Linked DNA regions of Homo sapiens. The protein of the gene in region 2 purifies or fractionates together with the protein of the main gene of each other region. This does not show direct contact. Each region holds a gene or a part of one and is shown on either strand. Other genes may lie near its edges.

What was found.
Region 1: the proteins of SCAMP2 (region 2) and WDFY1 purify together in Homo sapiens (affinity purification with mass spectrometry; one large-scale study listed by BioGRID and IntAct). This does not show direct contact.
Region 3: the proteins of SCAMP2 (region 2) and RAB11FIP5 purify together in Homo sapiens (affinity purification with mass spectrometry; one large-scale study listed by BioGRID and IntAct). This does not show direct contact.
Region 4: the proteins of SCAMP2 (region 2) and DIPK2A purify together in Homo sapiens (co-immunoprecipitation; one study listed by IntAct). This does not show direct contact.
Region 5: the proteins of SCAMP2 (region 2) and LRRC8C purify together in Homo sapiens (affinity purification with mass spectrometry; one large-scale study listed by BioGRID and IntAct). This does not show direct contact.
Region 6: the proteins of SCAMP2 (region 2) and SLC2A3 fractionate together in Homo sapiens (co-fractionation; one large-scale study listed by BioGRID). This does not show direct contact.
Region 7: the proteins of SCAMP2 (region 2) and NTSR1 purify together in Homo sapiens (affinity purification with mass spectrometry; one large-scale study listed by BioGRID and IntAct). This does not show direct contact.

The regions. Positions count from the first base shown.
Region 1 is NC_000002.12:223,874,848-223,877,091, forward strand, and holds the end of WDFY1 (WD repeat and FYVE domain-containing protein 1), read right to left. Parts: 3' UTR 501-2,244; downstream 1-500. UniProt on the Homo sapiens protein: Positively regulates TLR3- and TLR4-mediated signaling pathways by bridging the interaction between TLR3 or TLR4 and TICAM1.
Region 2 is NC_000015.10:74,863,366-74,866,865, forward strand, and holds part of SCAMP2 (secretory carrier-associated membrane protein 2), read right to left. Parts: intron 1-3,500. UniProt on the Homo sapiens protein: Functions in post-Golgi recycling pathways. Acts as a recycling carrier to the cell surface.
Region 3 is NC_000002.12:73,078,449-73,081,948, forward strand, and holds part of RAB11FIP5 (rab11 family-interacting protein 5), read right to left. Parts: intron 3,216-3,500; coding exon 1,203-3,215; intron 1-1,202. UniProt on the Homo sapiens protein: Rab effector involved in protein trafficking from apical recycling endosomes to the apical plasma membrane. Involved in insulin granule exocytosis. May regulate V-ATPase intracellular transport in response to extracellular acidosis.
Region 4 is NC_000003.12:143,978,323-143,981,822, reverse strand, and holds part of DIPK2A (divergent protein kinase domain 2A isoform a precursor), read right to left. Parts: intron 1-3,500. UniProt on the Homo sapiens protein: May play a role in cardiomyocyte proliferation through paracrine signaling and activation of the PPI3K-AKT-CDK7 signaling cascade.
Region 5 is NC_000001.11:89,713,120-89,716,576, reverse strand, and holds part of LRRC8C (volume-regulated anion channel subunit LRRC8C), read right to left. Parts: coding exon 1,595-3,457; 3' UTR 1-1,594. UniProt on the Homo sapiens protein: Non-essential component of the volume-regulated anion channel (VRAC, also named VSOAC channel), an anion channel required to maintain a constant cell volume in response to extracellular or intracellular osmotic changes.
Region 6 is NC_000012.12:7,922,688-7,926,187, forward strand, and holds part of SLC2A3 (solute carrier family 2, facilitated glucose transporter member 3), read right to left. Parts: intron 3,262-3,500; coding exon 3,157-3,261; intron 1,825-3,156; coding exon 1,723-1,824; intron 338-1,722; coding exon 134-337; intron 1-133. UniProt on the Homo sapiens protein: Facilitative glucose transporter. Can also mediate the uptake of various other monosaccharides across the cell membrane. Mediates the uptake of glucose, 2-deoxyglucose, galactose, mannose, xylose and fucose, and probably also dehydroascorbate.
Region 7 is NC_000020.11:62,707,350-62,711,635, reverse strand, and holds the start of NTSR1 (neurotensin receptor type 1), read right to left. Parts: upstream 2,801-4,286; 5' UTR 2,429-2,800; coding exon 1,715-2,428; intron 1-1,714. UniProt on the Homo sapiens protein: G-protein coupled receptor for the tridecapeptide neurotensin (NTS). Signaling is effected via G proteins that activate a phosphatidylinositol-calcium second messenger system.

The DNA.
Region 1 (2,244 bases), on a different chromosome or scaffold from region 2:
CTATTCACTGCCTTTCTGGTTTCTAAATCAATCTCTGGTTTAGTTGAGGTATCAGTTCTTCTGGGTCTGAACCACACGTGTTCACTCACAAAACTGAGCTGCTGAGGAGAAGTAGAGCTTGATCTTGTTATCACTAGATAGCTCTGTGTAGTCAGAGCGCCTAAATATCCTGCACTATGCTGACTGCTACCTCAAGCGGCAGAGACAGTAATACCCACCACCCTTACAGACAGCACAAATGACATGCTAGCACATTCAGGCCAGAGGCAGGAAGAAGGCATGTGTTTTCAAGACAGAAAGGCAGACTTAATAACACACATTCTCTTGGTTTTCTCATCTGTAAAATGGGAGGAATGATGCCTTGCCCAAGTGTTGCCAGGATTGAGTAAGATAATGTAGTGAAAGCACCCAGCACACAGAGGGTGCTGAATAAATGGTTGCTACTGTTATTGCCCTACGTCCAGGCTGACTACAACAAAAGTGATATTAGGCAAACACAGTAACAAGCAAGGAATGTTTTATTGTGTACATTTTCTCAAAAAAAAAAACCCACAAAAACAGAACCCACAAATAGGAGCAAAGAACAGTTTTCTAGCATCTCTGGGATACACAGGGCACCATATCTTATAGAAACATAGCTAGTACAAGAACAAAGTGTACTAATTAACATTACCCCTTGCTTCCCCAGTCAAAAAAGGCTATAGAGAAAAACACTTTAAATTGTACTCTAATACAAATTTGTTGCACAATTAAACTTCAACTTACTCAAAGAGTTATTGTATTGTAAACTGCAGAAAATAGAATAGGCATTCAATAAATCTGCTCACAATTAACAATTAAGCAATAGACACTTGAATAAATATAGCATGTATTACTTATTTGTTAAGCCTTACACTTACGATGAGCAGATGGTTTATCACTATATAGTAACAGATTTTTTTTACACTTTAGGAGATACCATATCCAATAACGGAAGTAGAAGTACTTTAACGAAAACTGATTTTAGAAAAATATCTCCTTGGGTCTGAGCTACTATGGTATTTATTACATATTTGGGTCAGTTTCACCAGTTTAAAAATATAGGTACTAACAAACTGAATTCTTTCATGGGAGAACAAAGTAATACATTCTAGAGCAATAGTATTTCTTTATATCCTTTAGGTAGCAGGACAGAGCTAGGACATAGTAAAGAGATTTACGATGTAATGAATAATTTGTTTCTACCTAATGCTATAGGGGTATTGCTATCATTTGAACTAAGAAAGAACAATTTTAAAACTTGTTTATAATGAAGAATCGGCATTTCCTTACCACATATATACTAGATGTAAATATAAGGATCTTCTCTAATAGTCTGTATTCCTTAATCCCTATCTGTACAAATTAGCCTGCATATTCAGGAATGGAACAACCAGTAAACTGTTACTTGAAGAACTAATTTAAATGATCCATTTAAGAGAAATGCAGTCAAAATAAGGCAATAACCATCAGCCTATCTGTACTTTTCTTCTGTGCCTACTCAGTAAAATTGAGAAAATAATTTTTGCCCACTTCTATAAAAATATCACCCCATTTGCTACCTAGCATATGAGAGAGACAAGACTAGCCTGTCACGTTTGTCTCTAAAAAGAAAAATGATAGGCCTGGTGGAGAGCAAGCTATATGGAAACATCAGCCTTTCCTTTTCTAAGATACGTCACTCCAATTCTTCCTTAAATATAAACTTCCTCCTTGATTTATATTAACCCCTTAGGAGGCACTATAATAACTTTATGTTCCCATGGAACATAGGGTTTTTCAAGAATTTCTTAAAATAAAAAAGGTTTGAAAGCTATGGAGTAAACTCAGCAGCTGTGATATTCCGTTCAATCTACCACAGATGTCAAACGGTCACATTTTACAGAAGTCAAAGGAAAACAAAACCACAGTTCTGCACTCTTCCACAGGGCAAGGAATTGATCATATTCTATTTTCCTTTCAGGAATTCATAAAATCCCTAGGATAGCACCTTTGTATGGGCTGAACCATTAACTGAACTAAAATTAATACAGGAAGCTTAACATTCAACATTGTGCTTGAACAAAACTTACCACTACTCAATTTTTCTTCCAAACTATGTTAGTAATATACATTTTGCAAAGAGTCTAGAAAGTTTTTAAAAGAAATCTCTTTAGGTGATGTAACACGAAAACTCTAAGGAACAACAAAACCCTTCAGTCTTATTTCTGAAGACAAGTCTATGTT
Region 2 (3,500 bases):
CCAGGTCTCGTCGTGGGTACCTGTGGTCCCAGCTACACTGGAGGCTGAGGCAGGAGAACTGCCTGAGCCCAGGAGGTCGAGGCTGCAGTGAGCCATGATTGCGCTACTGCACCCTGGCCTGGGTGACAGAGACAGACCCCATCTCCAAAAAAAAAAAAAACAGTAAGTGAGCAAGGTACACTCAGGCCTCGCTTCCTGCCACCGGCTGCAATGTGTGGAACCCTTCAGAAAAGCAAGTCTGAGTCACCTGGCCGGGCATTCAAGGCCTTCCAGGACCTGGCACCAATCCTCTAAAGGAATCTACCCTCAAAATGGGACACTTACTATCTCCTCGCACCTCTGTGTAGTCTCTCCATACACAAACCATTCCATGCCAAGCACTGGGCTAGGGAAACCAAGAAAGAACCTTGATTCCTGCCTTTGAGAAGCAAATAGTACAGAGAATCACACAGAAGCCAGGGCAAGAGGTGATGGCACATGATCAGCACTGTAACAGGGTGAGGGCAGACACAGGGTGAGACACAGTGTGATCATAGAGGAGAGAGTAATTAAGCTGTCTGGGAGAGTCAGGGAAGGCTCTACTGAGCTGGAATCTGAGTTGGATCTTGAGAGATGAAAGAAACCTAGCAAACAGTAAAGAGGAAGGCAAGAACCACACTTGCAAAGCCACAGGATCTTTATTTATTTATTTATTTTATATATGTATATATTTTTGAGACGGAGTCTCACTCTGTCGTCCAGGCTGGAGTGCAGTGGCGTGATCTCAGTTCACTGCAACATCCGCTTCCCAGGTTCAAGTGATTCTCCTGCCTCAGCCTCCTGAGTAGCTAGGATTACAGGTGTGTGCCACCATGCCCAGCTAATTTTTTGTATTTTTAGTAGGGACAGGGTTTCACCGTGTTAGCCAGGATGGTCTTGATCTCCTGACCTTGTGATCCGTCCGCCTTGGCCTCCCAAAGTGCTGGGATTACAGGCTTGAGCCACCGCACCTGGCCGAGAATCTTTAAAAAGAGCTTGCATGTGTTCAGAAGAGAGAAGGTTATGGAGGCTGTGGAGGGGTGTGTGGAGAGAAGAGTCTGGAGTATCAGGGAACCAGTCTGAAGAGGGTGGGGCCAGATTGTGGGACTTTGGATGTTGCTCTACAGGCAACGGGGAACAACTAGAGATTTGCAGTCAGGGGTGACATGATCATTCTATCAGCAGTGAAGGGAGTGCAACAGCATGGTAGGACAACAGCGGGAAGACTGGCTAGGACACAACTGTCAACATGGGTGAAGTGAGGACCAAATTGAGGGACAGCAGCTGGGGATGGAGAAGAGGAACAAGAGGGACTTCAGAGACCTTCCTCACATCAATCCCACAGGCTCAGCAACTCTCTGGGTTGGCCTGGGAATGGAAAGACTACAGGGCAGGAAAGGGAAGGGAAAGAATAGAGTTGAGGCCAGGCACAGTGGCTCACGCCTGTAATCCCAGCACTTTGGGAGGGTGAGGCAGGTGGATCACTAGAGGTCAGAAGTTTGAGACCAGTCTGGCCAACATGGTGAAACCCCATCTCTACTAAAAATACAAAAATTAGCCGGGCGTGGTGGCACATTCCTGCAATCCCAGCTACTCAGGAGGCTAAGGCAGAAGAATTGCTTGAACCCAGGAGAGGTGGAGGCTGCAGTGAGCTGAGATCACACCACTGCACTCCACCCTGACTCTATCTCAAAAAAAAAAAAAAAAAAAAAAAAGGCCAGGCACAGTTGCTCACGCCTGTAATCCCAGCACTTTGGGAGGCCAAGGCAGGTGGATCACCTGAGGTCAGGAGTTTGAGACTAGCCTGGCCAACATAGTGAAACCCCATCTCTACTGAAAATACAAAAATTAGCCGGGCGTGGTGGCATGCGCCTGTAGTCCCAGCTACTTGGGAGGCTGAGGCAGGAGAATCGCTTAAACCCAGGGGGCAGAGGTTGCAGTGAGCCAAGATAGCACCACTGCACTCCAGCCTGGGCAACAGAGCAAGACTTTGTCTCAAAAAAAAAAAAAAGAAAAGAAAAGAAAAAAGAAAGAAAGGAGTGCCCAAAATAAGTGACTGTGGGAGAGGAGGAACAGGTTTTTCAAGGGTGGGTGTGGTGGGGTAGGGAGAGGATCCGAGAAGATATTGAGTCAGGTTGGAGATAGCTGTGGAATATTTCTGGTTGGAAGGATTGGGAAGGTGCAGGTGTGAGTTTGAAATAGTGGTCTGAGCTCAGGAGGAAGCTGAGAACTAGAGATCTAGATCTGGGATCGCTGAAATGTGGATGCTATTCTGAAGTCATAGAAATGAAGGTATAAAGTGAGAACAGGGTAAACCCAGCACTTTGGGAGGTTGAGGCAGGATTGCTTGAATCCAGGAGTTCGAGACTAGCCTGGGCAACAAAGTGAGACCTCATTTCTCCAAAAAAAAAAAAAAAAAAAGCCAGGCACGATGGTGTTTGCCTGTAGTCCCAGCTACTTGGGAGGCTGAGATGGGAGGATTTCTGGAGCCTAGGAGATTGAGGCTGCAGTGAGCCGTGATTGTGCCACTGCACTTCGGCCTAGGCAACACAGTGAGACTCTGTCTCGAAGGAAGGAAGGAAGGAAGGAAGGAAGGAAGGAAGGAAGGAAGGAAGGAAGGAAGGAAGGAAGGAAAGGAGGGAGGGAGGGGAGGGGAGGGGAGGAAAAGAAAAGAAAAGAAAAAAAAGAAAGACAAAGTTTAAGTTCTGAACTTCCAATAGCATGAATAAAAACAAAAAAAGAACTCTGGAATACTCCTAAATGTATGAGACAGGAAGTGAAAACAGGCTGAGGAAGGTGAGAATTATCAGGATAAAAGAGGCCAAGGATGGAGAGAATTTCAAGAGACTGGCCAAACAAGCATGTGAGTCACAAGCAGCAGACGCATCCCAGGCTCATGACTCCCTAAGAGACCATTAAGATCTAAGAGTGAGGACATGCCTGGGGGTGCAGGGGTAAGAGTGGACACAGGAGTACAGGGATGACAGCAAGCAGGAGCGACTTTTGGTTCTTGGCACTACTTCACCCAAAAATACTCTGTTTTCTGGCCGGGCGTGGTGGCTCACACCTGTAATCCTAGCATTCCGGGAGACCGAGGTGGGTGGATCACCTGAGATCAGGAGTTTGAGACCAGCCTGACCAACGTGGTTGAAACCCCACCTCTACGAAAAATACAAAAATTAGCCAGGCATGCTAGTGCACGCCTGTAATCCCAGCTACTCGGGAGTGTGACTCTGTCTCAAAAAATAAATGAATAACCCTGTTTTCCCATCTGCCAGGCTTTCTGCTTTCAGTCCAAGCCCTCTGTGCCACAGGTCTCTGCCCTTCCTCCTGAGAGCCCTCCCAGCTCCTTTGGACACTGCCCTGATCCCACTTGTGATGTGCTGTCACTCTCAGTGAGCATTTATTTTCTTTCTTTTTTTTTTTTTTTTGAGATGGAGTCTCGCTCTGTCATGCAGGCTGGGGGGCAGTGGTGCAATCTC
Region 3 (3,500 bases), on a different chromosome or scaffold from region 2:
TCCCCCACATCCTCTCCCTCACCTCAAGGGAGGAGAGTCACCACCACCACCAGGGAGGGACACTGGGGGCAGCCTGGACTCCCTCCCACCCACTTCCCATATGTAGTTCTGGCCCCTTGGGGTTTCTTCCCTTCTTGGGTCCACTTTATCTTCCCCAGTGGATTGGACATTCCTTGGGAACAGAGTGGAGACAGTGTCTTTCATCTGTTCAGCATCTGACACATAGTAGGTGCTCAGTGAATGTGGATGACCAAACATGAATGCCTGGTCGGGAGGCCAGTGCTGGAGCCTGCCCTGCTCTCCCCTCCCTTCACTCGGTCCTCCTAGAGCGCTATCGTCCCAGAGGGACTTGCTGCCTTCTAAGTCACACCCCATCACCTCCCAGTGCCCTGAGTCTCCAGGCCTCTGCCCACATCACCCCTGACCAGCCACCTGGTGAGGTCACAGCTTCATAATTCTTCCAAACCTCCCAATGCCACAGTGAGCACAGTCACACAGGCATCCGCTGTCCACTCAGCGGTCCTAAGTGCATCAGAACCACCCCTTAAAAGGCACCAAACGCAAACCAATGAAGCAACTGCTGCGCGTGGGGAACCTTTCTTCTGAGAGTTACATATGTGGGAAGTGTTTGAGTTTTCCTTTTTCTTCTGAAGGTGTCTGCAGCTTTCTCTCTGACCTAAGTGCTGGTCCCTCCTCTGGCTCTCTGCCTTCCCCAGCCTGCACCCTCACTCTAGCAGAATAGGAAACTGCTCAAGGCTCCACTGCCAGCCTGCTCTGCCACGGTCTGCCCCAAGAACTACCCCCTGATTGACAAGTTCCACCGCCCCCCACCCACAGCTCCCCTGCGGCTGAGTGCACACACTCCAGAAGGGCCTACAGCACTGCTCTCCTTCCCTGCCAGCCCACATCGGCTCTCCCCACTTCATTCCTTATACCCTGCACCTCATCAGTGCTGTTCTCCAAACCCCTGGCTTGTGGGGGGCTGCCTTGATTATCCCAAGTCCCAAGACAGCAGCTTCAGAGGTGGTACCATAGAAAGCTCCTGTCTTCAAAGCCTGTACCGTCTTGCCTCTGGGGTAAAAGAGACCCTCACCTGCCCCACAAAGGATGAGACTGGAGTGTGAACCCCTCAGTCCCTTGGGCTGTTCTGCCCCCTGTCCACCCCCTTCCTCCTGGACAGTGTTCTGGGGGTGGATGCTCACCTGGCACTGGGCTGTGGCTCCTCAGCTGGTCGTGTCTCCAAGGGCAGAAGCACAAGCGGGGAGGCTGGGGTGGCTGCAGCGAGGTCCTCCCTAAGTAGGGCAGGGGAGCCCCCAGGTGGGGAGGGCTCATGGGGGCCAGGGAGTAAGGCTGGCTCCCCTGGTGGTGCAGAGGAGGTAGTCAGGGGCCAGGCTTCAGACAGGGGAGAGCATGGAGGGCTGGGCCCCCCACGGTGGTGGCTGGCCCAAGGCGGGAGAGGGGGCGGTGGAAAGTCAGGCTCTGGGGGAGTGGGCAGCTCTTCTGGACCAGAATGAATAGAAGATTCCCTCGACCCTGGCGGGGATGCAGATGAGAGGCTGGGAGGATCTCGGCTCCCCTGAAACAAGAAGGGGTTCAAGGCATCTTCCTTGGAGACCCACACATCAGCCTGCTGGGAGGTGGCTGACAAGGACCCAAGCCCCTCTCCTACTGGATCCTGGCCCTGGGCCTCAGGAGCCTCAGGGCCTTCTCCAACCTCTGGAGTCCCCCAGATGTGCTGACTCTGAAGAGCCAAGCTCTTTGAGTGACAGGGTATGGGGGCAGGACCCTCAGGGCAGCTGGCGGGTGCAGACAGGCAGGGCCCAGACACAGGGGGGCTGGCATCCTCCACTAGCTCTTCCAGGCCAGGCTGGCCCAGCAGGGTTGCAGAGGAGCAGCTGTCAGACTCCTCCGACTCACGCTTCTCTCCCTCCTCCTTGGTCTCCGGGGGACCGACAACCAGTGCACTTGGGGAGGCATCTTCTCCCTCTGTCTCCGGCCCCCTGTTACTCAGCCCCACTGCGGCCTTCTCCTCCTCCTCCTCCTGGGATCTTGAGGGTGTGAAGAGGCGCGGTGGCTTGGGAGGTGGGGTGCTGGGCTGCAGCCCCTTGTCAGACACCCACTCGGGTTTAGGCTCGGGCTCCGGTGGGGGAAGCCCCTCGCTCCCCTTGGGGCTCACAGTTTCTGGTGATTCAGGCTGCACCTGGGGAGCAGGCTCATCAGACTCTCCCCGAAAGACTAGTGAGGCTGTCTCAGCTGCAGGAGAAATGGTGACCACATCCCAAGGCCAGGCATCATCAGCTGTCTCGACGTCAGGGCAAAGCTGATTTTCGCCTCGGGAGGACTCATCGTCCTGGCCCTCAGCAGCGCTCTCTGGGCCCGGCAGCCTCTCCCACACACTGATCACTTCTGGGGAGCTAAATAGAGATGTCCCACTGTCTGCCGGACTCTGCCCTGCTTCCACTTCCGGGGCTGGCAGTTCCCTGTCTGGTTCTGAGCCTGAGGCTCTCAGCTGTAGCTGGGCTGACGAGGAGGGCAGGCCAGCCCCTACCGACCCGAGGAGCCCTGGGTCAGCCGCGCTCGCGCTCTGGTGGTTCGGTCCCAAGTCCAGAGGAACCCTGGGCTCCAGCCACACGCTGCTCCCACCTCTTCCTCCTCCTCCTCCTCCTCCTCCTCCTCCTCCCCCAGGCTCTCCCTGGGGCTCAGCTGCCTTCGCAGTCATGGCCCCAGGGCCTGGGTCTTGCAGCCCTGCCGCCTCCAGCCCCACTCCTGCAGGGGCCAGGATCTCGCTCCTGGCCTCTGGACGCAGCCTGCTGGCAGCAAAGACGTTGAAGGTGTTGTCCCACTCAGGCAGGGCTTTCCCAGGGGAGGCCAGGGGGGTGGGGCTGGCCCTCGAGGCACTGGGGAGAGAGGGAGCAGGTGAAGGAGAGTTTAGTGCTATGTCGGCTATGAGCTCCTCGAAGAAGGGGTTGCTCTGCAAAGAGGTGAGGAACGGGTTGGTAAGACCCAATAATCCAGGTGGGGTGGCTTCAGGGGCGGCGGTGGTGGCGGCAGCGGCAGCAGTGGCAGCAGCGGGGGAGGCGGCTGCAAAAAGGTTAGTGCTTAGCATGGGAGCAGCAGTGGGAGCAGGAGTGGGAGGGGCCGGAGCCCAGGGGGAGCAGGGGAGGTGGTGAGGAAGAGCAGCTGGGTCAGATTCTACCTGAGGAGACACGTCCAGGCTGTGGAGGGAGACAAAACCGTGAGCCTCCTGGTTAATGCCAAGACTGGAAAGGCCCCTGAGTCCCACGCCCCACCCCCTGCTTCGGGACCAGGGGCCATAACACACACATAGGCTGGATTTACCTACTTGGGCCAGGGTACAGAGGGAAGACCCCAACATGTAACATTATCAAGTGCCTCCCAAGGAGAAATATGCCAGGCAAAGCTATTTTAATGCTCACTCCAACCCCAGAGAGAAATCATCTCATCTGATAGGCAGGATCCGATCCAAACCTAACCAAGTG
Region 4 (3,500 bases), on a different chromosome or scaffold from region 2:
TAATTATCTTTACAACAGTCAAAATGAATTCAAAAGATAGATTAACACAACCTCCCTCAAGCCAATATCCTTTTGTTGAAGTTAAACTTTATTAGTTTGGGGTGGTTTTTTTGGGTTTATTTTTTGTTTTGTTTTTGTTTCTGTTTTTGTTTTTGCTTATTTATCATCTGTTTAAGAATTTTTCAGATTTTATAAAGGTAACGGTTTATATATTACATAAGAGCATTCCAGAAGCCAACATTATGCTGGAAAAATAATGTTAAGATTGATTATTTAACCTAAGTGATCTCCACCCAGGCTGAGACCTAAAGGATGAGTTTAATATTAAGCAGACTGGAGATGGGGCAGTTCAGGCACATGAAAAGCCTGAAAGTATCTTCTCAGAAATGAATAAAAGACCAAAGCAGCTGCAGTGAAATGAATGGGGAAATGACTTGCGGTAAGGGAATCTGGAGAGTGAAGCAAGGACCAGATCATGTTGGGACTTATAGAATCAAACAGAAATCTTCAACTCAGTCTTTATAGCATCATCTATATGTATGCCATGCAAAAACAAATACATGTCAAAATCTTGATGTTCAGGATTATCTTACATACTGAAATCAAACAGTATGCTATGGTATATTTACCTTATTCTAAAAAACAAGCCTTTAAAATATCACGATAACCCTTTGATCAATATCCACCATCCTGCCAGGTTAATAAGGCCATTTCATTCTATCATGCCATAACACAGTCATGAAAAGGGTGGACATGGAATATATGAGTAAAGATACATAAAAGAATACATTTTGGTATTGTTTATTTACTTACAAAAAATAAATGACATGAGACTAATAGATTAAAATAGAGTCTACTTAAAAGTGCTTGTATTCTTTTTTCTCCTACATGACCAAAAATATTGTATACTAAATTTAAAAGATCAAAATTCCTTTTATACAATATAAAATATTTTATAATACTTCATTACCTCATAATATTCCATTAAAAGGAACATAGCTTTGCAGTTTGCCTTAAGAGAGAAAATAAGTACAGACCAAGAGATGTGTTACCATGCAAGACTGATTTTTGTTAAACTTGAAAGTTCTTAGTATAAACAAACTAACTTCAAAAAAACTATTAATAAAACATACAATCTAAAATGTGAATATCGATTTTCTACATAACTGGCATTTCTACAAAAAAAAAAAAAGTTTAAGCTTGAAAACACTCTTAGAAAGTATATGTCATCAAAAGCATAGAAAATGCTTAAAGGGGCCAGGCGCGGTGGCTTCACACCTATAATCCCAGCACTTTGGGAGGCCTAAGTGGGCAGATCACCTAAGGTCAGGAGTTTGAGACCAGCCTGGCCAACATGGTGAAACTCGTCTCTACTAAAAACACAAAAATTAGCCAGGCGTGGTGGTGAGCACCTGTAATCCCAGCTACTCGGGAGGCTGAGGCAGGAGAATTGCTTGAACCCGGGAGGCAGAGGTTACAGTGAACTGAGATCACGCCACTGCACTCCGGCCTGGATGACAGAGACTCCATCAAAATAAAGACAGACAGACACATAAGAAAGAAAAGAAAGAAAGAGCTAACTTAAGTTTTAAAATTATTTTTTAAAGCCCAAATTTGAATGAAATCCCATTGTAGTAACGCATGTTATAACAGCTGTTCATAAAGATTAGTCAACTGTACTGGTGACAGACTAATGTGTTCACAGTTTGGTGAACTGTCTGGAGGGGAGATATAGTAAAATTACGGGGATGATTTAATGGTTACTGAATTTTTGCTAAAATTTCTCTAAGATCTTAGCTTCTTAATTTATACTGCTAAATAGCAGCCAAAATCCATTGCAAATACTGTAGAAGCTTAACAATTTCAAGATTTTTAAGTCCTAGCATATGTCCCATTTATTTCATGAAATAATTTTCTGAATGCCATTTTCCACCCACCTCAAATTCCAACAATATTAAACAATGCCTTGAAAATAGTAAGGTTGTGTTATTTTACTGAATATCATGTCCAACAGCTGTATCTAAAATTGGAAACTGATGTCAAAACACATTTTAAAAACTAAATTTAATAGAAATAGATTATCTTTTAGAATAAATTGCTTAAGAAATGCTGCCCCCACCAAAAAAAAACACAAAACAAAAAACACTTCACTTGTTCACAAGTTTTAAATATGCATAAGTTTACTAGTCTCAACTGACCCTTACTGTGTCCCAGGGGTATATACAGATCAGTTCCTGGCACTATTGACCAATTCCACATAATTACTGTCAGATCTTTTCATTTCAGAGTTAACCCCCAAAAAAGCATTAGAAAGAAAAAATACGAAGACACTGAAGCATCATACTTACTTCAGATTACAAATCTTTTAAGATTCTGTCTCAGAGTCTAAGGTCTAGACTTAACCTGTTTTTTTGTACTACCATTTACCAATGTACTAAATAGAATTACTAAACTATAATAATGATTTACAGAGAAAAAAAGAAACTATTTGCCTTTTACTTCTTAATCCTTATCTAAACCGTCTTTCCTACCATATTCATTCTATTCATTACACTTCATATGAGACAAATCCCTAATCCCCTTTTAAACTACTATTTTTAAAAAACTATAGCCTGAATAGGTACATATGATTTACGTATATGTAAGGACAGTGACATTTGAATGTCTGCAATAAGAAAAGTAGGATTTTTACATTTCTAAGACAGACATCAGCATAATGTACTAAAGAACTTTTAACTACTATAGCTGTCTAAAAATGGAATAAGCTGATTTTCAAAGAAATAATACACTGTAAAAAGCTTTACAACTGAAAACATTTAACAGATATTACTTGAATAATCCTTTCTTCTTTAATCTTTAAAACAATCCTGTTAGGTAAGTATTAACAACCCCATTTTACTGATTAAAAAAACTTAGAATCGGAAACATTAAGTGACTTGCTCAATACCATCCAACAACTTTGTGGTAATACAGAATGTGAAATGGATGCTCTATCAATACTGCCCCCTCCACCCTTCCTCCCACTCTCCACCCCCATCTATTGGCAAAATCTCTGAAACTTTCCCTGGTACCATTCCTATCAATATACAATGAGATGTCCCTCCCTGAGTCATGTGACAGTATATATATATATATATATAGATATATATATATCTATATATAGATATATATATATATATATAGATATATATATATATATAGATATAGATATATATATATAGATAGATAGATAGATATAGATACCTTTTGTACAGGGCTTATTAAATGGATTGTATAATAATTAGTTATTTGTGTACCTACCTCCTACATAGTAAGCTACTTGTTTCCTACGGCCATCTTTCCATCCTTTCAATCCAAATGCCTTGTAACAGATTGTAAAATGAACAGACAAATTCAGTTCTTTTGGTTATAAATTCAAAGAGCTCTCAAGAATTTCACAGACAACTTCCTATCACCTTATACTAACCTCACCTTACACTAATAATTTTCAGTCATGTTAC
Region 5 (3,457 bases), on a different chromosome or scaffold from region 2:
TAATAGTCAGTGAAATATTTTGCCCAAGAGCCCATGCTATGTTGGATTTTAATTACAAAGGTAAATAAAAGCTCTGCTGATGGTCAGGCAAAAATTATTGCTAAGCAACAACCACTTAGCAATTTATTCACACTTTAACGAACAATTTTAGATGAGATACATATTTTAAGCCAGAGAGCAGATGGATTTCCCGTGCTTGTAGCACTAGTTCACAGCAAGGGCAGGCTTGAGGGAAATCGATTAATATCCAGTCATCCCTCGGTATCATGGGGAATTGATTCCAGGATGCCCTCGAACACCAAAATCTGAGGATGTTCAAAATCCTTGACATAAAATGGTGCAGAAATTGCATATAACCTATGCACATCCTCCCATATACTTTAAATCATCTCTAGGTAATTTATAATACCTAAAACAATGTAAATCCTATTTAAATAGTTGTTACGCTGTATTGTTTAGGGAATAATGACAAGGAAAAAGTCTGTACATATTCAGTACAGACACAACTTTCTTTTTGAGTATTTTCCATCTACAGTTGGTGGAATCCACAGATGCAGAACCCACAAGTACGGAAGGCTGACTGTATATATAAGTGGATTATTTTGTGTAACAGGCAAAATTTGAATAGATTACCACTGCCACACTGTGCTGAGAAAAGGAGAGGGCCTCACTGGAGCACACCAGCTCTTTAACAGGGTGCTTTAGTAAATTTTTTTCCATCTGATGCAGCTGCATATCAAGATATGAAAGATGATTAAATTACTCAAAAACCAGGCTTCTATCATTTTAAAATTTAATTATCTATTAGAATATTAAAATAAATCTAGGTTCTCCAAAGTTGTTCACCAGTACTACATAGCAGTATTGAGATTAAGGTGGGAGGAGCCTCTGTATTTAGGTTTTAAATATTTTTAAAATGTTGGTAAAATGCAAATAAGTTAAATGATAAAGGCCTAATTCAAACATACCAGCCACTAAAGATTATTTTCTTCACTCACAAAAACCTTGCCTAAGGATAACAATAACTGTCAGGTATATGAAATAACACAGTTTAGGGTTTTGTTGGAGGCAGGGGAACATTTAAAATACTCTATGACAATGCACTTATGTGAAGTTCCACTGAATGAAGGTCTTGGCCAATGGAGAAGACAGCTGGTATTAAAATAACTAGCACAGATTCCTTGATACACACACAATGAAAACAAAAATAAGAACCCTGTACAGGTGTAAACAAGTTAAAAATGGCCTTGGCAAAATATCTTCCTCTATTTAAAAAATGCCAAAAAGCATGCAACTTATAATTCCCTCCTTTCCACAAGAATGAACTAAAAAACAAAAACAAAAAACCAAATGGAACTATCTCTTTCTGTCAGTAGATAATAGATACATTGTGTTTCAAGACAAATAAAACTTCAAAATATTAATATTGAAAAAATACAATTAAATTTTTATTAAAAATACATACTCCTTACGCGATCTTTGTGTACATTTTGTGTGAAAAGGAAAAAAAAATAGGAAAGGCATTAAGACTACCTAATTATTTATACTGTATTTGGTAGAAGCGTGTTTCAGTCAAACTTTAACGAAAAATAAGTTATTCTGTTTTCATTTGCTCCCGGACGTCAGAAGGCAGAGTTTCAAACAGAGCATCTTCTACAACTAAACCAGCTCGCTTCAGAGCCCGACAGTCACCCAGTTCAGGAGGGAGGATTTCAAAGTGATTACCTTTTACATCTAAGTAGGAAAGAAATAGCAAATTTCCAATTTTCGGTGAAAGTACAGATAGGCTGTTTTTTCCAATCTTCAGAGTTTTAAGTTTCTTGCAGAAGTAGAGTTCATCTGGAAGGCTTTCCACTTTGTTACATGTGATGGAAAAATACTGTAAACTTTGTAGAACTCCAATTTCAGGGGGGATAAATCGAATGTCATTGTACGATAAGTCCAAGTATCGGATCTTGTTGCATAGGAAGAGGTGGGAAGGCAGCACCTCTATTTTATTGTGACTAAAGGACAGGCGTTCCAGGCTGGTGAGTTTCTTTATATGCTCTGGGATGTAGGTGATGCTGTTATGCCACAGTTTTAGCACTGTCAACTTTCTTAAGTGCTGAAAGCTAACGATTTCTTCTATAGATTTCAGATTGTTTTCCTTCAGGTCCAATTCCTGGAGGCTGAGTAGGCTGAACACAGCATGAGGAATACGCTCCAGGTCACAGTGGACCAGCTCCAGCTCTGTCAGATTGGTCATCTTCTTTAAGTTGTTGAGCATCACCAGCTTGGTGCCATCATTATGTATGCACATCTTCTGGAGATGGCTGGAAACATCAACCACTGCCTGAGGGATTTTGGAAACGTTGCTTTTGATAGAGAGAATTTTAAGGCTTTTGAGATCCCGCAGAGACTCAAGGGTGACATTTCTGGAAATATCATGACTTAGAGAGCCAACTAGGTACAGCTCTTCCAGATTTCGGAGCCCATACATCCAGGGGGGGAGTTCCCTCATGTCATCAAACTTGACGCTCAAGACCTTGAGGTTTTCCTTCAGGAAAGAGAGCGCCGCACTGTGGATTTTGACAGAACACTGGTGCAGAGAGAGCTCTTGAAGATTGTCTAGCTGTGCAATGGTGGCTGGTATCATTACGTTCTTAATGATTTCAAGTTTTAGAGATTGCAACTCTGTGATTTCAAAAACAGTGTCTGGAAGGCCAGAGAGCATGATAAGAGGCAATTCCAGTCGATTATGGGCATTTGTCTGTAGCTTCTGCCTCAGTTTATCAGGAGTCCATTCGTTATTTAAGTTCAGCTGCTTTAATTTGTTTTCACTGACTTCAGACAGGAACACTGCAAATCTCTTGGAATAGAGAGGGTCATACTGATCTATCATATGAAGCATAAAAGCAAAGTCATTTTTCACATCTGGAATATCATCAATTCCAGTCTCCTGACGGACATACTCAAAGGAATATTCCCGTAGAGAACGGTAGAACAGCCAGTATAAGGTATAAAGGCACGTCAATCCATAGATACTAACAAAGCACAGATAGCAAAAGGACAGTTTTGAGAACAAGTGTGCCATGGTATGATTGCAAGAAAAGTTTTTATATCCAGTCATGTCCTGAATGTCCACATTACAGTCCACTGTAAACTGGACCTTGGAAACCAGAGCACTATTATATGCAATGATGATTAGGAATTTGATAACTTTAAGTACAGTCTGGCGAACATACATGGCATATAGAATATCACCTTCTTCCACATGCAGCCTGAACTTCTTCACCTTCTCAAATAAGGCCTTAGCCTGCTCACCTTCCTTTTTATCCAGAGCCCCTGCAGTGGATTTATCAACTACAAACTTCTCAGGAATGGACTTTAAAGACTGAGAGTTGACCAGGCTGTCTTCTGGACCAGATTGGATGGTGTTGGACCTGTTCATGTTGTTCTTCCTGTTGTCCTTTTCTTC
Region 6 (3,500 bases), on a different chromosome or scaffold from region 2:
CCCGCCTCAGCCTCCCACAGTGCTAGGATTACAGGCATGAGCCACCATGCCAGGCCCAGACTACTGTATTATTAAGGAGTATCTTCATGTCAGCTTACATAGGCTGGTTTTAAGATAAGGTGAGTTTACTTACAGCAGCGGAGGGGAAGAGCAATCCGACTAGGAAGTTGGAGGTCCAGTTGGAGCAGCCGGCCACTGCCATCGCAGCTGGGCGGGGGCCCTGGCTGAAGAGTTCGGCCACAATAAACCAGGGAATGGGGCCTGGTCCAATTTCAAAGAAGGCTACAAAGACCAAGATAGCCCCAATACAGACAAAGCTCATCCCATTATAGTTATCCTGTAAGAGCAAGGAACAGAGAAAATTAAATTTAAAGACAGTGTAACCTAGTATCTAGGTTCCCAGAAGCAATTAACGGCAAGCTCCTCCTGTCCCTGACGTACAATACAAAGAGTGGCTGTGGAGTCAAAAGGCTTGGATTTATTTTTATTTTTATTTTTTGAGACAGGGTCTTACTCTGTTGCCCATGCTGGAGGGCAGTGGCACTACAATAGCTCACTGCATCATCGATCTCCTGGGCATAAGCAATCCTCCCACCTCAGCCTCTCAAATCGCTTGGACTTGAAGCATGTGCCACCACACCTGCCTAATTAAAAAAAAATTTTTTTTTTGGCCAGGAGCTGTGGCTCACGCCAAGGCAGGTGGATTATCTGAGGTCAAGAGTTGGAGACCAGCCTGGCTAACATGGTGAAACACAGTCTCTACTAAGAAGTACAAAAATTAGCTGAGCGTGGTGGCACGTGCCTATAATCCCAGCTACCTGGGAGGCTGAGGCAGCAGAAACACTTAAGCCCAGGAGGCAGAGGTTGCAGTGAGCTGAGATCCTGCCACTGCTCTCCAGCCTGGTGACAGAGTGAAACCCTGTCTCAAAAAAAAAATTTTTTTTTGTTTTTTTGTAGAGAAAGTTTCTTGCCATGTTGCGTAGGCTGGTCTTGAACTTCTGGGCTCAAGCAATCCTCTAACCTTGGCCTTCCAAAGTGTTGTGATGACAGGCATGAACCACTGCGCCCAGCCAGGATTGGATTTTTTTTTTTTTTTTTGAGAGAGAGTTTCGCTCTTGTCGCTCAGGCTGGAGTGCAATGGCACCATCTCAACTTACCACAACCTCTGCCTCCTGGGTTCAAGCAATTCTCCTGCCTCAGCCTCCCAAGTAGCTGACATTAGAGGCATGCACCACCACTCCTGGCTAATTTTCTATTTTTAATAGAGACGGGGTTTCTCCATGTTGGTCAGGCTGGTCTTGAACTCTCGACATCAGGTGATCCGCCTGCCTCACCCTCCCAGTGTGCTGGGATTACAGGCGTGAGCCACCGCGCCCAGCTGAGGATTGAATTTTTCAATCCCATCTATATGATCTCATATATGTCACTTTGTACTGAGACCATGTCATCATCTATTAAGTGTGATTACCTTGATATTATTCTAAGAATTAAATTAGATAATTTATTTTATAAGCTATAATAATGTTCTATAAATGTAAGGATTCTAACAGTTTACCTCCAGTTCTCTGACGACCCATGTTTCTTAAACTCTGGGCATCCTGCTTCTCTCCTCTGACTTTATTGACAAACTGCAACCTTAACAACCCACCCCTTGTGTCACAGAAGTCAACTGTAACCTCTCTTCTTTCCCCCTCCCTTTTTTTTCACCCAAAGAGCACCTACCTTTAATAACAAAGAAACAGTCATGAGCGTGGAACAAAAAGCCATCCCTCCAAGGCCTATCATATGCAGAGTCCTTCTTCCTGCCCTTTCCACCAGAAATAGCTGGAAGAAGAATATGACATGAAACTTCAGTTTTCCTTTCCATGAAAACAGCATCTGAGCTACTTGAAATCTGCCTTACCAACAGCAGGACACTTGTTATGGATACCCCTCCTGTGATTTATGATTTTATATACATACATATTGTGTGCCATTCACAGGTCCTGGCTCAAAATCCCCATAGCCCTTGGTAGAGTCTTTTGTCATAATGTTGGGATGCTTCAGGCCTCAGGAGCAGGCCTCAGATAACAGAATTCTTCTCTGACTTTCTCCTGCCCTCCCACTTGGCAGGACGCTAATCTGACTGTGGGTCATAAAACCCTCATTTCAGAGAGGGTCCTGCCCCACACCCTAGAGGAAGAAACGCTACAGAGAGGCCAACAAATCATCTAAGCAGACAGGCCCAGCTGGGTTCAGATCATTCCCTTTTTGTCCAATCACAGGTCAGAACAGTTGTCCATGCTTCAATCATGGAGAACCAATTAAGTCTGCATAAAAGGCCCAAAAGGCAGGGTATGGGGAGCTTCCAGATATCTGAACCCGTGGAAGCTGACAGGAAGGTCAGCAACAACTCATCTATGTGCTAGGAGTGCACCCCAACCCCACAGAGACAGAAGCTCCCATGCTCAGGATCCCTCCAGACCTCGCCCCGTGAATCTCTTCATCTGGTTGTGTATTTCTGTGCTTTAAAATATCCTTTAAATCAAACTAGGAAACAATTTTCCTGAGTTTTGTGAGCCACTGTAGCAAATTAATCAAACCCAAAGAGGATGTCGTGGGAATCCTGATCTACAGCTGGTGAGTCAGAAGCACAGGTAAAACAACCTGGAGCTTGTGACTGGCATCAGGAGTGGGGGGCAGTCTTGGGAACTGGGCCACCAACCTGTGAGATCTGATGCTATCTCCAGGTAGACAGTGTCATAATTAAAAAATCGCAGGACACCTAGATGGTGTCCACTACGGAACTGATTGCACACCTCACGGGGAAAAATTCTCACATATTCTGGGGATCACAGATAACTTCTGTTGATTATTGTTGTTTTAGTGTAAAAACAGTGGAGTAACAGAGCTTGAGAGTTTTTCCAAGCACCTTTCCTCCAATTCCAAGTTCAAAGCATACTATATAGTCCCTTCTATACTCCCTCCTTTCCCATCCATCCCATATTTGCTTGAAGAGTGAAGACTACATCCAACATTAAATTTATCTCTTTTTCCCAAAGGAAAATTAAGCAACAAAAAGGTAACTAAATGATGGTAGGGTCATGCAATCCATCTTTGAACATCTGTAGCAAGGATTCTTTTCTCCCCTCAAAATTACCAAACCATCCAACTTACAGAAACTACAGTGAAGATAGTATTAACCACACCCGCGCCGATGGTGGCATAGATGGGCTCTTGAACACCTGCATCCTTGAAGATTCCTGTTGAGTAATAGAACACCTAGGAGAAAAGAAAACATGCAGCTTTGATGCAATTCTGCACACCAGTTACACAGAACCCTCAAAAATAAACTTAAAAGTCCCAGTGGGTAAGAAGTCCTTTTTCTAGGTTTTCGTTCAATACTAATATCCCTTCTGCAAATGAATTATCTTCTGTATCTTATCTCCTAGTCTGGATCTGTCACCCAGGCAGGAGTGCAGTGGCACAATCTCAGCTCACTGCTACCTCCACCTCCCAGA
Region 7 (4,286 bases), on a different chromosome or scaffold from region 2:
CTTTTGCCAGGGGAGCAGGGGGATCGGGGTTCTGAGCGGGGGGATCGGGGATCTGAGCGGGGGGATCGGGGGTCTGAGTGGGGGGATCCGGGGTCTGAGTGGGGGCATCTCCTGGGTGGGCAGTGACAGCGCTGACCCCTCCACTGCCCACCTTCTGAAGGACTGAGTGGCTGTCGCCCCTGGGGCCCCTCCACGCGGACTGGGGAGAGGTTCCCCCTGGCCAATGCCAATCAAAGACAGGAGCTTGGGGAGAGCAGATAAAGCCTCAAAGGGAGGGAGAGGTCATTTCTCACTGTGTTTACCCCACAGGCCGTGCCTACTTCTGCCTCTGGTGAGGGGAGGGACTCTCGCCGCAGAAGCAAAGCAGCCCTGACTCACTGCCTGCCACCAGTGTCTGTGGGAGGGGCCTCCCCGAGATGGGACACCTGTAGCCACCAGTTCTATGTGCAGCCAGGGAGACTGGGAGCTCAGTTCTACCCTCCTCCACCCCCCAGCCCACCTGGGTGGTGGCCAGTGGAGGGTCAGTTAGGGCCCAGGGAGTGACAGACAGGTGACCCCCTGCCCGGCACTGCTGCCCTCACCCCCACCGGGCATACTGGCATACGCGGGGTGCCCAGGCAACTACAGAAGCTTAGCTGGGAGGCTGGCGATGCTGGTGTGTGGGGAGTTGGGGGGACAGCCAGCCACCCTGGCCCCTCTAGCTGGGCAGAGGTAGGCGACTCTGCCCGGATCCTTCACCCTCTGGCTTCCTTAGCCCACCAGAAATGGAGGAAACCCCACACTTCTAAGGCTGCTCATTTCCAAGATGCCTTTCAAAGTTCCCGACCGGCCCTGACTTCCTCCCTGGACACCAGCCTCCTGCTCGGGGCTTTGGTTTGATCAGCCCTCCCCTCCAGCACTGGAACCCCCCGTGCCACGAACCTCAGCCAAACTGATTCCCAAGGGGGCTTCCCACCCGCATTCCCACGGCGCTTTGCTCAGACCCTTGGAGGGCCCTTAGTCACTCGGCTCCAGTTTTACACACCTCACCACAACACCGCCGCCACACGCAGATCCTCACAACCTTCCCCGCAGAAACATCGTCCCCACCATCCCGCAATAATAGTGCCTGTGAGCCCTTCTATGTGTCAGGGGCCATGCAAACACTTCCCACGCGTCCTCTCTCCAATGCTCTACCTTCTGAGGTCAATGCTATCACTACCCCATCACACAGATGGGAAAGCTGAGGCTAAACTAGGAACTGGCCCAACACGGCATCAGGTTCTGTTCTGACTCCCAAGTTTGGGTCAGGGCAGGCAGCTGGGAGGCACCGGCAGAGCCAGTCTGGGGGCTTCTCTGCAGAGGAAGGAACATCACCTGTTGGTGGCACAGTCTTTTGAGAAGCTGATGAAAGTGTTACTCTTCCTTTGGAGACGCAGGTGCCAGCGCACATGTTTCCATTAGGCTTAAGGAATTCAGAGATGTCCGAGGCCCAGCCACCAACACCAGAGAGGTCACAGGCAGGGGCTCCATCCCCTCAACAGGAGGGAAGAAGATAGGGGCTGAGCCTGGCAACTCTGGAGCTGCCCCCAAGCTGCCCCAACCGCCTTCCCAGCCTCGCAGGAGTAGACTGTCTCTGTGACATCTCTCCCACTCCCTACCCAGAAGGCACACCACTGGCACTGCTTTTGGGGTGAAGGAGAGGGGAGCCCCGGGGCTGGTTACTGAGGCTCACCTGTATGACGACCTTGACGGTGGCAGTGTGGATGGTGGGGGTGCACACCAGGCCGCCGGCGTGCTGGCCGTCGGCGCTGCGGTTCTGCTCGCCCATGGTGAACAGCATAGGCACCGCCAGCAGGGCCGAGGCGAGCCAGATGGCGCTGATGAACTTCTTGGTGCGGCTTCGGGACATGAGGGTCTTGGCCTTGAAGGGGTGGCAGATGGCCAGGTAGCGCTCCACACTCAGGCTGGCCACGTTGAGGGCCGTGGCGTAGGTGCAGGCGTCGCGCAGGAAGTAGTAGCCGCGGCAGCCGGCGTCGCCGAAGGCCCAGGGGTGGTGCACCCAGATGAAGTTGTACAGCTCCACGGGCATGGCCAGCAGCAGGGTGAGCAGGTCGGACAGCGCCAGGCTGCCCAGGTGGTAATGCACCGTGCTCTGCAGGCTCTGCAGCGACTTCTTCCGCGCCAGCGTGAACGCCGTCACCGTGTTGCCCACCGTGCCCACCACGAAGAGCGCCAGGTACACGGCGGTCACCAGCACCTTGGAGTAGATGTCGGTGTTCACGTCCAGCTCGCTGCTGGGTGCCGCCAGGACGCGCTCCGACGCGTTGCCCGAAGCGTTGCCGAAGCCCGGGGCCAGCAGCGCCTCCTCCAGTCCGGCCTGCGCCCGCTGGAAGGGGTCGGCGGCCGGCGTGCCCGGGGTTCCCGGCGCGGAGCTGTTGAGGCGCATGGTGGGCGCTGGAGTCCGCGGCTCTGTCCGGCGCCTCCGGGGCTGGAAGTCCGGGCAGGAGTGGGCGCGTCTCAGGCGGGGACCGATGAACGGGAGCCCAGGGGAGGGCGCGTGGCGAAGACCAGCGGGCGCGCCGTCCAGTCGGGAAGCGCCAGACCCAGACGCGCCGCCCCGGGCTCCGGGCTCCGGGCTCCGCTCTCCTCCGGACTCCCAGCTTCCGGCTCCTAGCTCCAGAACCCGTGGTTCCTCGGGCTGTCTCCCGGCTCGGCGCTTGCCACGGGTTCCAGGTGCCTCCGATCTCCAAACCGCGCGGTTCCCCAGGCCCCCGAGGACAGCGCCCAGCCCGGCTCGGGCTGCGCGGGGCGAGCTTGTGGCGCCGGGAGGAGCGCACGCACTGCTGCCCGGGCGCGCTCCCCTCCCTCGCTCAGAATCTCCTCCCTCGCGCTCTCCGCGCACCCCAGCCCCGCACACCTCCCGCCGCGCCCGCGCCCTCCCGGCTCTGCGCGTCTCCACGGAGCCGGCGGCCGCGCGGCGCGCCCAGCAGTGGGGGGTGGCGGCGGAGGAGGGAGGCAGCCCCCGCCGCCATCCCCGCCCCGCCCGGGTGCAGCCTGGCGGGTCGCCCCCTCGCGCTCCCCGGGGCAGGGCGGGCTGGGGTGAGCGCTCCAGGGAACCAGGATTCCGAGCGGGCGCGGCGGGTATCGTGCACCAGACCCTTCCTGCCACCCTCTTCCCTGTTCTCCGCAATTTCTCGCACCGGCTAGGAAGGGAACTATGCACCTCCCCCAACCCTGGGCTCGCTCAGTTGGGGTGAGGGTGTATCCGGAGGGCAGGGAGGGAGGAAGCTCCCCGCTGGCAGGGCTGGGCGGCTGCGCAGCTGGTTGGGCCGACCCCCACTCCTGGGTGTCCACAGGGTGCCAGAAGCTGGGTGCCCAGGGGGCTCTAGGACCACTGGAGATTACATTTCTGGTGATTCCTTTTAAAATCTGGCCGCAGTCATGGGCGTGCCTGGTCTGTGAATGCGTATTTCTGGGATGTGCCCAGTGGAAATGGTGGGGGCTCAGGGCATAGTTATCACCTGGGGCAGGATGGCGTGAGGCAGTACCGAGGGACACCTGCAGGGGCTGAGGAGCTGAGGGGCTGGGTCCTGCAGAGGCCGGGAGCCACAGATGGTTTCATCAAAGTCTGGGGAGGGGTGAATGAGGGAGGGCAGAAAGCAGGTGCCCAGAGCAGCACCCTCCCCACTCAGGGCCCTGCATCTGGCACCCTGGGCTGGTCTCATGACGCTATGGGATGTGATGCCCTGGGCCCCTTATTACTGCCTGGATTTGTCATCAGAAGCCACCCTGAGAGCCTGCGCCCCAGCAGGATTTGGGAGAGGCAGCCCCAGCACGCATCCTCCCAGGCCCTGCAGGCTTTGCACACTCCCTCCCTCTGAGTGTCCTCACAGGGTGCCCCGGCCCCTGGCTCGGGAGCCAGGTGAGGGCAAGATTCCTGTCCTTTCCGTGTCCCCCCCAGCACCTGGTGGCACTGGCATAGGTGGCCAGGCACAAGCTTGCCCCCCCCTCCATGTCTGGGTTGCCCAGGGGCCCCCAGGGCACTACTGTCCCTTCTCTGGGCCCTCCCCGCCCCCTCCCCTGCTCCCTCCTCCCCAGAACCCCTGGGAGAGGTTGGGTAGAGCTGCTGCCCCATGTGTGCAGGGCTGGGAGGAGCTGCTCGAGTGCAGCCCAGGGAACCAGCCTGGCCTTTGTGCACATGGCTGGCTGCACCTGCTGTGCTGGGAGCAGGAAACCTGGGCAGGCTGGGGCGGGGGTCGCAGGGTGTTGAGGGAAGCGGGAGGCTGAGGAACCCCCTCCCGGGC